Homo sapiens: one gene and its partners. The protein of the gene in region 3 purifies or fractionates together with the protein of the main gene of each other region. This does not show direct contact. Each region holds a gene or a part of one and is shown on either strand. Other genes may lie near its edges.

Region 1 (3,571 bases), on a different chromosome or scaffold from region 3:
TGCTGAATTCACTTATTAGTTCTAACAGTTTTTTTTTGTGTGTGTGTAATTTTAGAGTTTTCTTTTCTTTTTTTTTTTTTGAGATGGAGTCTCGCTTTGTTGCCAGGCTGGAGTGCAGTGGCGCGATCTCGGCTCACTGCAACCTCTACCTCCCAGGTTCAAGCAATTCTCCTGCCTCAGCCTCCCGAGTAGCTGGGACTACAGGCACACGCTACGACGCCCAGCTAATTTTTGTATTTTTAGTAGAGACGGGGTTTCACCATGTTGGCCAGGATGGTCTCGATCTCTTGACCTCGTGATCCACCTGCCTCAGCCTCCCAAAGTTCTGGGATTACAGCCGTGAGCCACTGTGCCTGGCTTTTTTTTTTTTTTAATTAACTATTGAACTTCTGTTTATTATTATTATTATTATTTATTTATTTATTATTTTTTGAGATGAAATCTCGGTCTGTTGCCCAGGCGGGAGTGCAGTGGTGTGATCTCGGCTCACTGCAACCTCCGCCTCCCGGGTTCAAGCAATTCTGTGCCTCAGCCTCCGGAGTAGCTGGGATTATAGGCGCTCGCCACCATGCCCGGCCAATTTTTGTATTTTTAGTAGAGATAGGGTTTCATCATGTTGGTCAGGCTGGTCTTGAACTCCTGACCTCGTGATCCGCCCGCTTCGGCCTCCCAAAGTGTTGGGATTACAGGCGTGAGCCACTGCACTTGGCCTTATTTTTATTATTTTTTTCATCAACTTTTAAGTTCTGGGGTACATGTGCATGATGTGCAGGTTTATCACATAGGTAAACCTGTGCCATCACAGTTTGCTGCACAGATCAACCCATCACCTAGCTATTAAGCCCAGCATCCACTAGCTATTCTTCTTGATGCTCTAGCTCCTTTTGCCCCACTGAATTTTAGGGTTTTCTTTCTTTTCTATTTTTTTTTCTTTTGAGACAGACTCTCGCTCTGTCACCAGGCTGGAGTGCAGTGGCACAATCTTGGCTCATTGCAACCTCTGCCTCCTGGGTTCAAGCGATTCTCCTGCCTCAGCCTCCCGAGTAGCTGGGACTACAGGCATGCGCCCATGCCTAGCTAAGTTTTTGTAGTTTTAGTAGAGACAGGGTTTCACTATGTTGGCAAGGCTGGTCTCAAACTCCTGACCTCAAGTCCCCTTGGGGTTCCTGAAGTACTGGGATTATAGGTGTGAGCCACCACGCCCGGCCAGATTTTCTATATAAAAGATCATATAATCTGCAGACAGATAATTTTACTTTTTCCTTTTCTTTCTTTTTTTCTTTTTTTGAGATGGAGTCTCGCTCTGTCGCCCAGGCTGGAGCGCGGTGGCGCCATCTCTGCTTACTGTTACCTCTGCCTCCTGGGTTCAAGCAGTTCTCTGCCTCAGCCTCCCAAGTAGCTGGGATTACATGCACATGCCACCACGCCCAGCTAATTTTTGTATTTTTAGTAGAGATGGGAGTTCATCATCTTGGCTAGGCTGGTCTTGAACTCCTGACCTCGTGATCCATCCGCCTTGGCCTCCCAAAGTGCTGGGATTACAGGCATGAGCCACCGCTCTTGGCCCTCAACCTTTTCCTTTTCAATTTGGATGCCTTTTATTTTTATTTTTCTTCCTTTTTTTTTTGAGATGGAGTCTCGCTCTGTTGCCCAGGCTGGAATGCAGTGGTGCAATCTCTGCTCACTGCAACCTACGCCTCCTGGGTTCAAACGATTCTCCTGCCTCAGCCTTCCGAGTAGCTTGTACTACAGGCATGTGCCACCATAAACAGCTAATTTTTTTTTTTTCTCGTATTTTTAGTAGAGACGGGGTTTCGCCGTTTTAGCCAGGCTGGTCTCGATCTCCTGACCTCGCGATCCGCCTGCCTCAGCCTTCCAAAGTGCTGGGATTACAGGCGTGAGCCACCATGCCCGGCCCTTGTTTTTCTTTCTTGCCTAATTACTCTAGCTAGAACTTACAGTATTATGTCGAATGGAAGTGGCAAAAGTGGGCATTGGGCATCCTTGTCTTGCTCCTGTTCTTTTATTTGTTAGTTTGTTTGAGATCCTCCTGCCTCAGTTTCCTGAGTAGCTGGGACTATAGACACACTACTACACCCAGCTAATTAAAAAAATAATTTTTTTTTTTTTTTTAGAGATGGGGTCTCGCTATGTTTCCCATGCTGATCCTGAACTCCTGGCTTCGGGTGATCCTCTACTCTTACCCTCCCATAGTGCTGTGATTACAGGCATGAACCACTGTGCTGGCCCTGTTCTTGTTTTTAGAGGAACATTCTTCAGTCTTTGACCATCAATTATGTTTGCTGTGGGTTTTTCATATGTTGCTTTTATTTTGTTGAGGTAGTTTCACTCTATTCCTAGTTTGTTGAGCATTTTTATGACTAATGGGTTTTGAATTTTGTCACATGCTTTTCCTGCATCGATTGACATGATTCTGTGGTTTCCTTCATTCTGTTAATGTGGTATATTACATTGATCAATTTTTACATGTTGGACCATCCCTGTATTCCAGGAATAAATCCCACTTGGTCATGGTGTATAATCCTTGTGCTGCTCAGTTCAATGTGTTGGTATTTTGTTGAGGATTTTTTTTTATCAGTGTTCATAAGGGATAGTGATCTGTAGTTTTCTTGTAGTTGCCTTTGTCTGGCTTTGGTATCAGGGTAATGCTTGCCTCACAAAATGAGTTGGGAAGTGTTCTCTCCTTTGCCAGATTTTTTCTGGGAAAAGATTGAGAAGAACTGGTATTAGATCTTCTTGAAATGTTTTATAGAATTCACCTATGAAACTATCAGATCTAGGGCTTTTCTTTGTCAGGAGATTTTTGGTTAGTGAGTCCATCTCTTTACTGGTTATAGCTCCATTCAGAATTTCCATTTCTTTGTGATTTAGTCTTTGTAAGTATTGTGTTTCTAGGAATTTGTTCAGCTGGGTTATCCGATTTGTTGGCATACAATTGTTGAAAATACTCTTTCAACAATAAGAGAGAAGACACAAATAACTAGTTCTTTTGTTTCCAGTTCCTTAAGTTGTAAAGTTAGGGTGTTGATATGAGATCTTTCTTGCTTTTTAATGTAAGCATTCATAGCTATAAATTTCCCCCTTAGCACTGCTTTTGCTGTGTCCCGTAAGTTTTGGTATGTTGTATTTTCATTTTCATTAATCTCTAAAATTTTCTAATTTTCCTTGTGATGTCTTTGAACCCTGGTTACTTAAACACACACACACACACACGTGTGTGTGTGTGTGTGTGTGTGTGTGTGTGGTTTTTTGTTTGTTTTGAGACTGAGTTTCGCTCTTGTTGCCCAGGCTGGGGTGCAATGGCGCGATCTCGGCTCACTGCAACCTCTGCCTCCCGGTTCAAGCGATTCTCCTGTCTCAGCCTCCAGAGTAGCTGGGATTACAGGCGCCTGCCACCACGCCTGGCTAATTTCACACACACATTTAAAAAATACATCTACCTGCTTTTACTTCAGAATCTTTGCAATTTCTGTTCTCTCTGCCTGAAAATTTTTTCCACCAAAATATCTACAGGGCCTGGCTCCCTTGCTTTTTAGGTTCTGCTTAAATA
Region 2 (3,571 bases), on a different chromosome or scaffold from region 3:
TAACTGCATATTCAAAGTCTGTCTCCCCTACTCAGCTGTGAGTGTGCTAAGGGCAGGGCCTAGGGCTGTCTTGGCCACCACTGTGTCCCCAGCATCACTCCATGGGGCCCTGGCAGGGACTCATCCCTCTGGTGGACAGGCAGGGGCTGCCAGGACCTGGGGTGGCCACTCCGCTTCTTGTCATTTGTGTGCTGCTGCTGCTGCCGGTGGTCAATCTCCAGCAAGTGCTGCTTCATGCAGTTGGTGATCTCCGGGCCCAGGTGCCAGATGAACACGCAGCTGCGGAGGTCAAAGAGAGACACACAAGGCAGAGGAAGAGTAAGCATGGGAGCCGCTGCCGTGGCTGACCCTGAAGCCACCCACACCACAGCCTGGACCCCATTCTCCAGATGCTCCTGGAAAACACACCCCTATCCGCTTAGTGCAGGGGTGCTGGACTTGCCACATCCACACCCTGGGCCCAGGTCTGGGGCATCCCAGCAAACCAGGGCCTGTTCTGGAGGCCTCAAGACCTGAGGAAGGGGGCTGTGGGGAAGAACTGGGGTAAATCAAAGGGAGTGACAAAAGGGACTTCCTTGAGTACCACCCATGTGCTAAAGAATGTATGTATATCATCTCATTCATTTCTCACCATACAATTTTCTTTTTTTTTTTTTTTTGAGAGAGTCTTGCTCTGTCACCCAGGCTAGGGTGCAGTGACGCGATCTCAGCTCACTGCAACTTCTACCTCCCAGGTTCAGGTCATTCTCATGCCTCAGCCTCCCAAGTAGCTGGGACTACAGGCGCCTGCCACCACGCACAGCTAATTTTTGTATTTTTAGTAGAGACACAGTTTCTCCATGTTGACCAGGCTGGTCTTGAACTCCTGACCTCAGATGATCCATCCACCTAGGCCTCCCAAAGTGCTGGGATCACAGGCGTGAGCCACTGCGCCCGGCCTCATCACACCATTTTTAAGGTAAATGTAAACGGTGGTGTCTTTTACAGGGGAGCAAACTGAGGCTCAGGGGAAATAACCTGCTCAAGGTGACAAGAAAATAAATGGCAGAGCTGGGATATGTTTTTTTAGTGTTTTGTTTTTTTTTTGAGACGGGGTCTTGCTCTGTCACCAAGGCTGGAATGCACTGGCATGATCTGTGCTCCCTGCAACCTCTACCTACCAGGTTCAAGCCATCTTCCCCCTCCTGAGTAGCTGGGACTAGAGGTGTACATGACCACACCCGGCTAATTTTTTGTAGAGATAGGGTTTTGCTATGTTGCCCAGGCTGGTCTCGAACTCCTGAGCTCAAGTGATCCACCCGCCTCAGCGTCCCAAAGTGCTGGGGTTACAGGCGTGAGCCATCATGCCCAGCTTAGAGCTGGTATTTGAACTCAGGGCTGGGTGTGACACCAAGACTCCCACAATCCAAACTGGGCAGTTTAGAAATGCTCTCTACACAGGCAGGCTGAGTGCAGTGCTCATGGTATCTGAGCCACAACTCTCCCAAAGGTCCATGTCCCACCTGTCTCCAGATACTGTGATCAAGTGATGACAGTCATAGGTGAACTTCATGCTGGTAATAATTTCTGCAAACAAAGCAGAGAGGCTGCACTTGCCTTCGGAGTCAGAGGGTGTGGGCGGGTGGGGAGGCATCCCAAGCAGAGAGGCACACCCACCTGAATGGCCAAACATCTTGGCAATGCACTCGCCCGAGTAAAAGTCAATCACTGAGATGCTTTTGTCAGAGCAGCTGGTGGCCAGGAAGGTGCCTGAGGGGTCCACATGGACCTGCCAGGAAAGGGACCCACATGTCACTCCAGCTGCCTGCTTCTTCCTTATGATGAGGCCTGGGCCCCTCCCTCCCCCGTGCTGCATGCACAGCACATGGGACTCTGGCAGGGCAGGAGCTCCCGCTCCCATTCGACACGTGAAGAAATTAACAACCACCGCAGCAGTAACAACAGTAGCCAGGCCCTGTGCTAAGCACTGAACATGTGCAAACTGAACTCCTCCAGAGAACAAGTCTATGAGACAAGCTGTCTGTGTGCATTTCAAGAGATGATGCTTGCCCAAGGTCACACAGTCAGCCTGAGGCAGAACCTGAACCCATAACTGTCCTAGACCAGAGGCTCTGAGAAGGTCCCCCCTTGTCCTGAGTGACCCGTGGCTGGTGTGGGCAAACCAGGAGGGGAGTTCATGCCTCTGATTCTTCCCACCATACCCTGCTGCCACTCAAAATGGAACCCACTTAGACGCCCCACTTGGGGAAGGGCTCTGTAAATAAAGGAAACACAGCTGGGGTCACCCTCCCCACCCTCTCGCAAGCATCCTTGTTTAACCAGGCCTGAGAAGGTGCTGGGCAGCGCGGTGCACTGAGGAAGGACCAAGGGCACAGGTCTCAGGTGTGGGCCGTCACAATAGGTGGCCCATCAGGGCAGCAGACAGACAGGGGTCTCCAACTCCTCACCTTCAGCAAGGACCCTTCGTCACCCTGGGAGCCCTTGTAGCACTTCTTCTGCTTCCCGTTCACAGTGTTGTAGACTCTGGGGAAGTAGGGGCATGTTGCGGCCAACAGGGCCCCGCCTACCCCACCACCTCATTCTCTGGCTCTTGCTGTCCTCCCCTCCCCTGGAAGCCCCCTGCTACCTCTTGTCCCCATCTGATGCCTAGACTGAAACTGAAACCCCATCTCAAGCTGAGGTTGTCCTGGGGTATCCACTGAGTTAATGTTCATCTCCCCCACACACTGCAAGCTCAGTGCTTGGCACCGCATGAGAAAGAACTGGGAAGGGGTGCAGAGCCTCTTTGCACTGCTTTGCCCTCTGCACACTCACTCTCTGCCTCCCCCTGGCTCGCTCCTCCACATCCTCCCCAGGCTAAGGTGTCTCTTCCTCCAGGAAGTCCTGCTTGATCCGCAGGTGGGGTCAGGTGTCTCCACAGGGCCCCTGGGCTCCCCCATCTCTGACCACTCTGTCACTGTCTGTGGCTGTGAGGTGGCCGTGTCCATTCTACTGGACTGTGAGCTCCATGAAGGAGGGCCTGGGGCTATCCTGGCCACTGCCATGATCCCAGCACCATCCAGCCCAGTTAGGTGCTCAGGGAATACGGGTGAATGAGGGAGTTTATGTGCCACATCAGCACCTTAGTCATCCCACACCGGCTCTAGGGAGAGCCAGAAGAAAGCCCTCTGCTGACCTGGAGGCCAGGCTTGGGAGAGCCCAGCTTCTAAGAAATACCTGCTGGTGGCCGGGCACGGTGGCTCACGCCTGTAATCCCAGCACTTTGGGAGGCTGAGGTGGGCAATATCACCTGAGGTCAGGAGTTCGAGACCAGCCTGGCCAACATGGCGAAACCTCGTCTCTACTAAAAATACAAAAAATTAGCTAGGCATGGTGGCAGGCGCCTGTAATTCCAGCTACTTGGGAGGCTGAGGCAGGAGAATCACTTGAACCCAGGAGGTGGAGGTTGCAGTGAGCTAAAATGGTGCCACTGCACTCTAGCATGGGCAACAGAGCAAGACTCTGCCTCAAAAACAAAAACAAAAAAAAACCAAGAAGGAACACCTGCTGGGTCCCTCAATTCCTTCCCAGC
Region 3 (3,320 bases):
TCCTGAGTTCAAGCAATTCTCCTGCCTCAGACTCCCAAGTAGCTAGGATTACAGGCATGCGCCACCACGCCCAGCTAATTTTTTTGTATTTTTAGTAGAGACGGGGTTTCACCATATTGGCCAGGCTGGTCTCGAACTCCTGACCTTGTGATCCACCCGCCTCGGCCTCCCAAAGTACTGGGATTACAGGCATAAGCCACCACACCCTGCCCTGATTTTTATCTTAAGAAGATGAATTTCAAATTATTACCTCTCTTCAAGATTTTTTAGGTAGTATGTATTTATATTTTGGCTTCTGATCACGAGAAATGCAAACTACTGCCATCTAAGTTTCAAACAGTAGTACCACTTTACGTTACAGTTAAAAAGTACCTTTGCAAAATGTTTTACATAATAATGGCTTCCATTTCCTGGACTTCTACTATGTACTAGGCAGTGTGCTAGGTACTTCATAGGCATGATCTCAAATCAGTCCAACAATCTCACAAAATTAATTCTATCATCTTGTTTCACAAATTTTTTTAAATGAGATTCAGAAAGATTTAAAATTGTGTTCATGATCACTGAGCAAGTAGGTGCCAGCACTTGGATTCAAACCCAGGTCTGTCTGTTGACTTAAAACCCTGCACAAAATTACCTTCTTTAATCATCATAACGCATTGGCGGAAAGACCTGTGCCTGATTATCCCCATTTGCCCAATAAAAAACAGAGAGGTTAATGATTTGCTTGCTCACCATCACAGAACGAATTAGCAGAAAAGAAACTGCCTTCCCACTCTTCATTTCATTTTTTTTTTTCCAGAGGACCAAATCACAGTTTACATATTACATTCTAAAAGCTATACTTATGGCAGTTACATATTACTTATGGATAGGATAAAAATCTCCTGATTTCTGAGAATCTTAAACATTGTTATAAATACGGCTTAGCTTCAACATAGGTCTGGTACATTCCTGTTTGTTCCAGTCCACCCGTGAATCAGGTACCAGTTCAACTCCCTTATTGGTTCCAGAATCCCCTCACGAATCCTAGGAACAACGGTGCTGATAACATAAGGGCACAAGCACCCTCTCCAGGCCTTTATCCTGTCCTTAGCTGCCCTGACACCATCATCAGACAACCAGCAGAACACCCTGAGGAAGGGCACACATATCTTACATGGTTCTTTTTTCCTTTATTTGTAAAATTATAAAGAGATTGTGTCATAAAAATCCAGCAAGAAGGTCTTATCTCCCTGAGTCCCACTATTCGAAGCAGGCTCCCAGAGGAGGGTATCATTTTATGTCCTGGCAAGAAGGTCTTCTCTTCTTGAAGCTGCCAACACTGTATCCTCAAACCTGTATTCCAGAAACTGTGTCTGTGATGTGCTGTGGCCAAGAAGTGATTCTCAAAAAAAAAATAAATAAATAAATAAGTAGACATGGATACAGCTCTCCTGCAAGAGAAAGCAAACAGGCTTTATCACCTCATAAACATGTCTCACCAATCAATACTTATTTGCCCTCTTTTCTGAAGCAACTCTTCAGAGTCCACTTGAATTCTATCACTACGGATAATTCTTGAAATTGCATTTCTCCCTCCTAATGATCTTCGAACAAGGCAAGCACCTCATTTTATTAAGTCCAACTACCCAAAGGAGCTGGTTCAGAGAAGAGTTAAGATATAGCTAAAATTGAGGTCTTAATCATTCCAGTGTGATAGAACTCTGCTATGTTGTCAAATCTCACCAAGCCTGATCTCCCAACTGCCAGTGGCAAGAACAGACAGCTGTCAGGGTTATTTGTTTTATTCAAAAATGACAGGAAATCAAAAATCTATCAAAGGGATGTGTCAACAGCAATGCCACAAGCATATTGGTTAGTGAGATTTATGTGTCTCCATTTTGGCTCATGACAAAAATCACCTTCTAAGCTTTCTCATTTTCAAATGCCCACTTGGACATACAGGTCAGAGAGTTCTGTGAAGTATCTTTAATGTTAGGTACAGTGTAGAACGTAGTCACTTTCTATGTGAATTTAAATTATGCAAATTTAAAATGTGGTATGATATAAAAATATTAAATACTGTCTCCTTATGCAGATTTCTGCAAATCCCACAAAACGTCTTTTAAGTATTAAAAATTGCAAAATTCCAAAGCTGAAAAAATTGAGTAAATTATAAATAGCACCTACCCTCTAGCCTCATCACAGTGCCACTTTATGTGCCAAACTAAATGCCTATATGTCTACTCCATTGTGTACGCGCATTGGAACTTTATGAGCAATTTTAGTGACCACTGTTGCTGGTATTTTAACTTCCTGTTATTATCATTTTAATACCTTTTTATGTCTTAATATAAAATCAGCCAAGTCTTCACAAAGTGTTGACGTTAGAGCTAATGCAAGAAAAACAAACTGTCAAACTATAAACTTTAGGGGTAAGACGTGATCAAACACTATATTTTGAAAGGCCAAACAATCACCACAACACTCCTTGATGTTAATTTAGGACACTCAATCAGTAGGCAAAAATTTTCTTCAAGGACCAGACAGTAAATATTATAGGCTTTGTAGCTATAAGGTCACTGTTATAACTATTCAACTCTGCAGTTGTAGCTTTGAACATAGTTAGAAGCATAGTTGTGTTCCAATAAAACTTTGTGTATAAAAGCAGGCAGCCGGCTAAATTTGGTTTACAGGCTGTAGTTTCCTGACCTCTACTTTATTATAGCTATAGAGCTAATTTCCCCCACTTCTTTTAATGTAGCATTTTACAACACATGAAAACAGTAGTACCCCCACCTACAACCACCCCCTCCATTTTCCATACAGTTAATTCTGAGAAATTAAAAAGTTCCATTAACATAGGCATATTTCAAACTTGACAAACTTTGTAAAAACAGTCAAGAAAATGGGAGAAAAGGAAAGGAATAAGCTGGCAGCATTCGATGCAACATCAAATTGTAGATTTATGTGGTAAGAGTACATACATACATATACATATATCCCCTACTTTACAGTTACTCCTCTGAGAAAACTGGTCATGAATTTTGAGAGTTGGAATTATATAAATCTTTCAGGAAATTTCATTGCATTGAATGCATTAAATGCAACTGTCCTGTACTAAACTCCTGGTTATATTCAGACCTCGACCATTTCACTTAAGAGAGGAGAGTAAGTTGCTTTTCACAAACAATACGATGCCCTGAGTTCATGGCTTAGCCCTCAACCACAGGACAAAAACACAAACAAACAAACATAAAAAACACACCAGCCTGGGCAACATAGGGAGACTTCACCTCTATAAAAAAGGAAAAAATTAGCCAGGTGTGGTGGTGCAC
Region 4 (3,571 bases), on a different chromosome or scaffold from region 3:
CTGGGCTCCTAATTCAGTGGTGTTTACCTCATGAACCAAAGAATGCCCCAAATGAATAGTATACCTTAGAAATCCTTTCAGCACAAGGCTTACAGTGTCTCATTCTTTCAAATATGATCTTATAATTTGCAAAGTTCATTTATAAGAAATTTATATATTAAAATATTCCTAAGAACAATTATACTAGGTAATTTCACAGTAGGTATTCAGGGTCTTAGAATAAAGTGGGACCTTGAAAATAAGTAACTTAAATTTTAGCTGAGTATTCTCAAGCTACTTTTATCAACTGTTTAGAATGAGAGGTATATGTGGCAGAATATTAACTAGAGCCAAGCTATGACAATTTGGCAGAGACTCTACCTCAGACTGTACGTCTAAACAAGTATTTAAGTAGTAACCTTGAATACTGTTTCCAAAAGCTTAACAAGGTGGTTTTATTTCCTTCAATGAGAATGTTTTCCATCAATAAAAAAGTTAACCCACATCTTGTACATAGAATACATTCACTTTGAACTCCATCAGTGGATAGGACAAAGCAATGTCCTTTAATAAATCCAACTACTTCCAAGTATAAAATAAATACAAATTTGTAAAAATTTTTAAAATAGAGATTATACATATAAGGAGATAGAAGAAGTAACATCCTGTGAATATATGCAGTACTTTAACCAAATACTGGTCATCAGATATATGATGCTCATATGGAGAGCTGAGAGGCTTAAAGAAGAGACAACAATAATTTATGATTAAAAATTAAGGTTGGCTGGGTGCGGTGGCTCATGCCTGTATCCCAGCACTTTAGGAGGCTGAGGCCAGCATATCACGAGATCAGGAGTTCGAGACCAGTTTGGCCAACATAGTGAAACCCGGTATCTACTAAAAATACAAAAAATCAGCCGGGTGTGGTGGTGTGCGCCTGTAATCCCAGCTACTCAGGAGGCTGAGGCAGGAGAATCACTTGAACCTGGGAGGCAGAGGTTGCAGTGAGGCGAGATCACACCACTGCACTCCAGCCTGGGCAACAGTGCCAGACTCCGTCTCAAAAAAAAAAAAAAAAAAATTAAGGTTGACAGGTTTGCCAGCCTGCTTCTGAGCTTTCTATCTCCAATAGCTGGTAAGTGGTAACATAGTTATTATTCTTTGTAGACTTGCTCGATCAGAATTACATTTTTGTAGCTCAGAAGATTCACAGTTCCTGTTTCGTATCAAATAGAAAATTCTGGGTCGTACTAAATATTTATAAACTTTCATACTACATAATCGATGTTTTTTAGGGTACAGGATGCCAAAACCATTTAACCTCAAAATCCTCTTGTCTATACATATGTACTTAACAATATGCATATTGTTAGCAAATACAGATGTGAGAGAAAGATAGTATTCTTGAGAGAACTGCATGCCAGGAAGTGCTAGCTTTTAACCTTTGTGTTTTTAATCAAGTAACAGATATTGTTTAAGAAGGTATATCTGAATATACTGTAATGTAAATTTTCAATGAAATAACTTCAGCCCTGAGACATAATGAGATACCAAAGTTTAAAAATCCCAAGTATGTAATAAAACACCAAATTTTAAAATATAACTTTTAACATTTCCTTTTACTTTTCTGAAGAAACATTTAAGATGCACTGTTATAATAAGGTAAACATTGAAACTGAATATATTTGAATTCAAAACTACAGATTTTAATTACTTTTTACTTAAATATTTTAAGCAATTAACAATTTAACCACAGCACCTTATCAGCATCGTAGTATCTAGTAATTCTATTTTTATATCAAAGAAGTATACATTTTTGTCCATTTTTGAATAATTAGTAAATCAGTAGCGTTTGCTTATATTGAATAACCTTGATTGTGAACAATATAAGCAACTCTAATGGACTATTTAGAAAATCGTAATGTTCTAATTAGAAAATACCAGTATCAACAATGTTATTTGTTGAATGCAAATGATAATTACTTTCAGCAATCAACTAAATACCAGATTGACTACAAGAAAGAGAATAAAGGACACCAACTCACCATTAAACAACATTTACTGACTCTATGACCCACCCACCACAATGTTAGCAACAGGGATAATATTTATATAAAAGAGAGTGGGCATGAGCTATGTGTTTCACATCTCTATGTTCCTAAGGTCAGTGGATGATTCATTAAGGAGTTTGTCACCTTTATGAATTCTTTATGTTTAACTTAAGAAATGGATACTCATTTTGTTTGGGGGTTGAGGTAAAACGGGTGGGTCAAATAGATTACCCGAAATAAACATAAACTCATATTCTTTTTCTCCCTTATCCCCAAAAGTGTGTTAAATATAATTCATTGTGGAGAAAAGAAATTGTTAAGTGTGAATCAATTTTATAAAATTAACTGTAATATGGTGGTAATGAAAGATGGTAGTCTGTAAGCAGAGTTCTGGCCACTATTTTGTATATTTAAAAGGTCTATGCAAAAGCTTTGTGATGAATAAAGGAGATTAGGCTTAAAAAAAGTTAACTGCAACAATTTTACCTTCAATTTTTATGATATGGCTCCTTGCATTTGAAAAAGGCTATAGATAGTGATAACTGAAAGAGTAACTGATGGTCCTTTTCACCCTAAGCACAGAGGAAGAGTTCTTCTGTATGCTTACTATTTGTAGTCTGTTACTATTTCTGACCCTGACTCTTGAATTCATTGCCTCTGCTCAGAATCACTCAAGAGTTTAAATTACACTTCTGCTAGACATTTTAAAGAACATATTATACTCATTACACATTCACAGTTAAGGATGGAATCCTTAACAATGAAGGATATAAAACAACTTTTGGTATAATCAAGGATATAATACAACTCGAAAATTGTCTATCATAATCTTCTTAGCTGTTACCAATTGTATGATGTCATATTTACATATGAATGACTTCAACACCTCAATAATCTATGGATTTGTAGTACTGTGATTCTCTTGAAAGCCAGAGCTTATGTAATACAAAATAATAAAATTATGGATTTTACAAAATAATATTCTCTGGCTAAATATTCTTTTTTTTTTTTTTTTTTGAGACAGTGTTTCACTCTTGTTGCCCAGGTTGGAGTGCAATGGCGCAATCTCGGCTCACTGCAACCTCCACCTCCTGGGTTCAAGTGATTCTCCTGTCTCAGCCTCCCAAGTAGTTGGGAGTATAGGTGTGTGTCACCATGCCTGGCTAATTTTGTATTTTTTTTTTTTTTTTTTTTTTAGTACAGATGGGGTTTCACCATGTTGGTCAGGCTGGTCTCCAACTCCTGACCTCTGGTGATCCACCCACCTCGGCCTCCCAAAGTGCTGGAATTACAAGCGTGAGCCACCAAGCCTCGCCTCTGGCTTTCAAAAGAGAGAATCACAATAATACAAAAATTTAAACCTGTTAAAATAACACTGTCCATATCCCAACAGCTCCTAAACACGTTAACTAAAATGGCATAATAAATTTGCCTGAGTTCATGTATGCCTTAATAAATAATCTTCAGAAAAAAATTTTAATCATTTTATTTTTCTATATTAACCATTTCATTTCCCACTGTTCATTATCTTTTTATTAATG

Evidence for each region.
Region 1: the proteins of PRELID2 (region 3) and KIF11 purify together in Homo sapiens (affinity purification with mass spectrometry; one large-scale study listed by BioGRID and IntAct). This does not show direct contact.
Region 2: the proteins of PRELID2 (region 3) and WDR62 purify together in Homo sapiens (affinity purification with mass spectrometry; one large-scale study listed by BioGRID and IntAct). This does not show direct contact.
Region 4: the proteins of PRELID2 (region 3) and MLF1 purify together in Homo sapiens (affinity purification with mass spectrometry; one large-scale study listed by BioGRID and IntAct). This does not show direct contact.

The regions. Positions count from the first base shown.
Region 1 is NC_000010.11:92,599,592-92,603,162, forward strand, and holds part of KIF11 (kinesin-like protein KIF11), read left to right. Parts: intron 1-3,571. UniProt on the Homo sapiens protein: Motor protein required for establishing a bipolar spindle and thus contributing to chromosome congression during mitosis. Required in non-mitotic cells for transport of secretory proteins from the Golgi complex to the cell surface.
Region 2 is NC_000019.10:36,089,397-36,092,967, reverse strand, and holds part of WDR62 (WD repeat-containing protein 62), read right to left. Parts: intron 2,524-3,571; coding exon 2,448-2,523; intron 1,769-2,447; coding exon 1,657-1,768; intron 1,567-1,656; coding exon 1,503-1,566; intron 280-1,502; coding exon 157-279; intron 1-156. UniProt on the Homo sapiens protein: Required for cerebral cortical development. Plays a role in neuronal proliferation and migration.
Region 3 is NC_000005.10:145,759,090-145,762,409, forward strand, and holds part of PRELID2 (PRELI domain-containing protein 2), read right to left. Parts: intron 1,437-3,320; 3' UTR 1-1,436.
Region 4 is NC_000003.12:158,574,161-158,577,731, reverse strand, and holds part of MLF1 (myeloid leukemia factor 1), read right to left. Parts: intron 1-3,571. UniProt on the Homo sapiens protein: Involved in lineage commitment of primary hemopoietic progenitors by restricting erythroid formation and enhancing myeloid formation.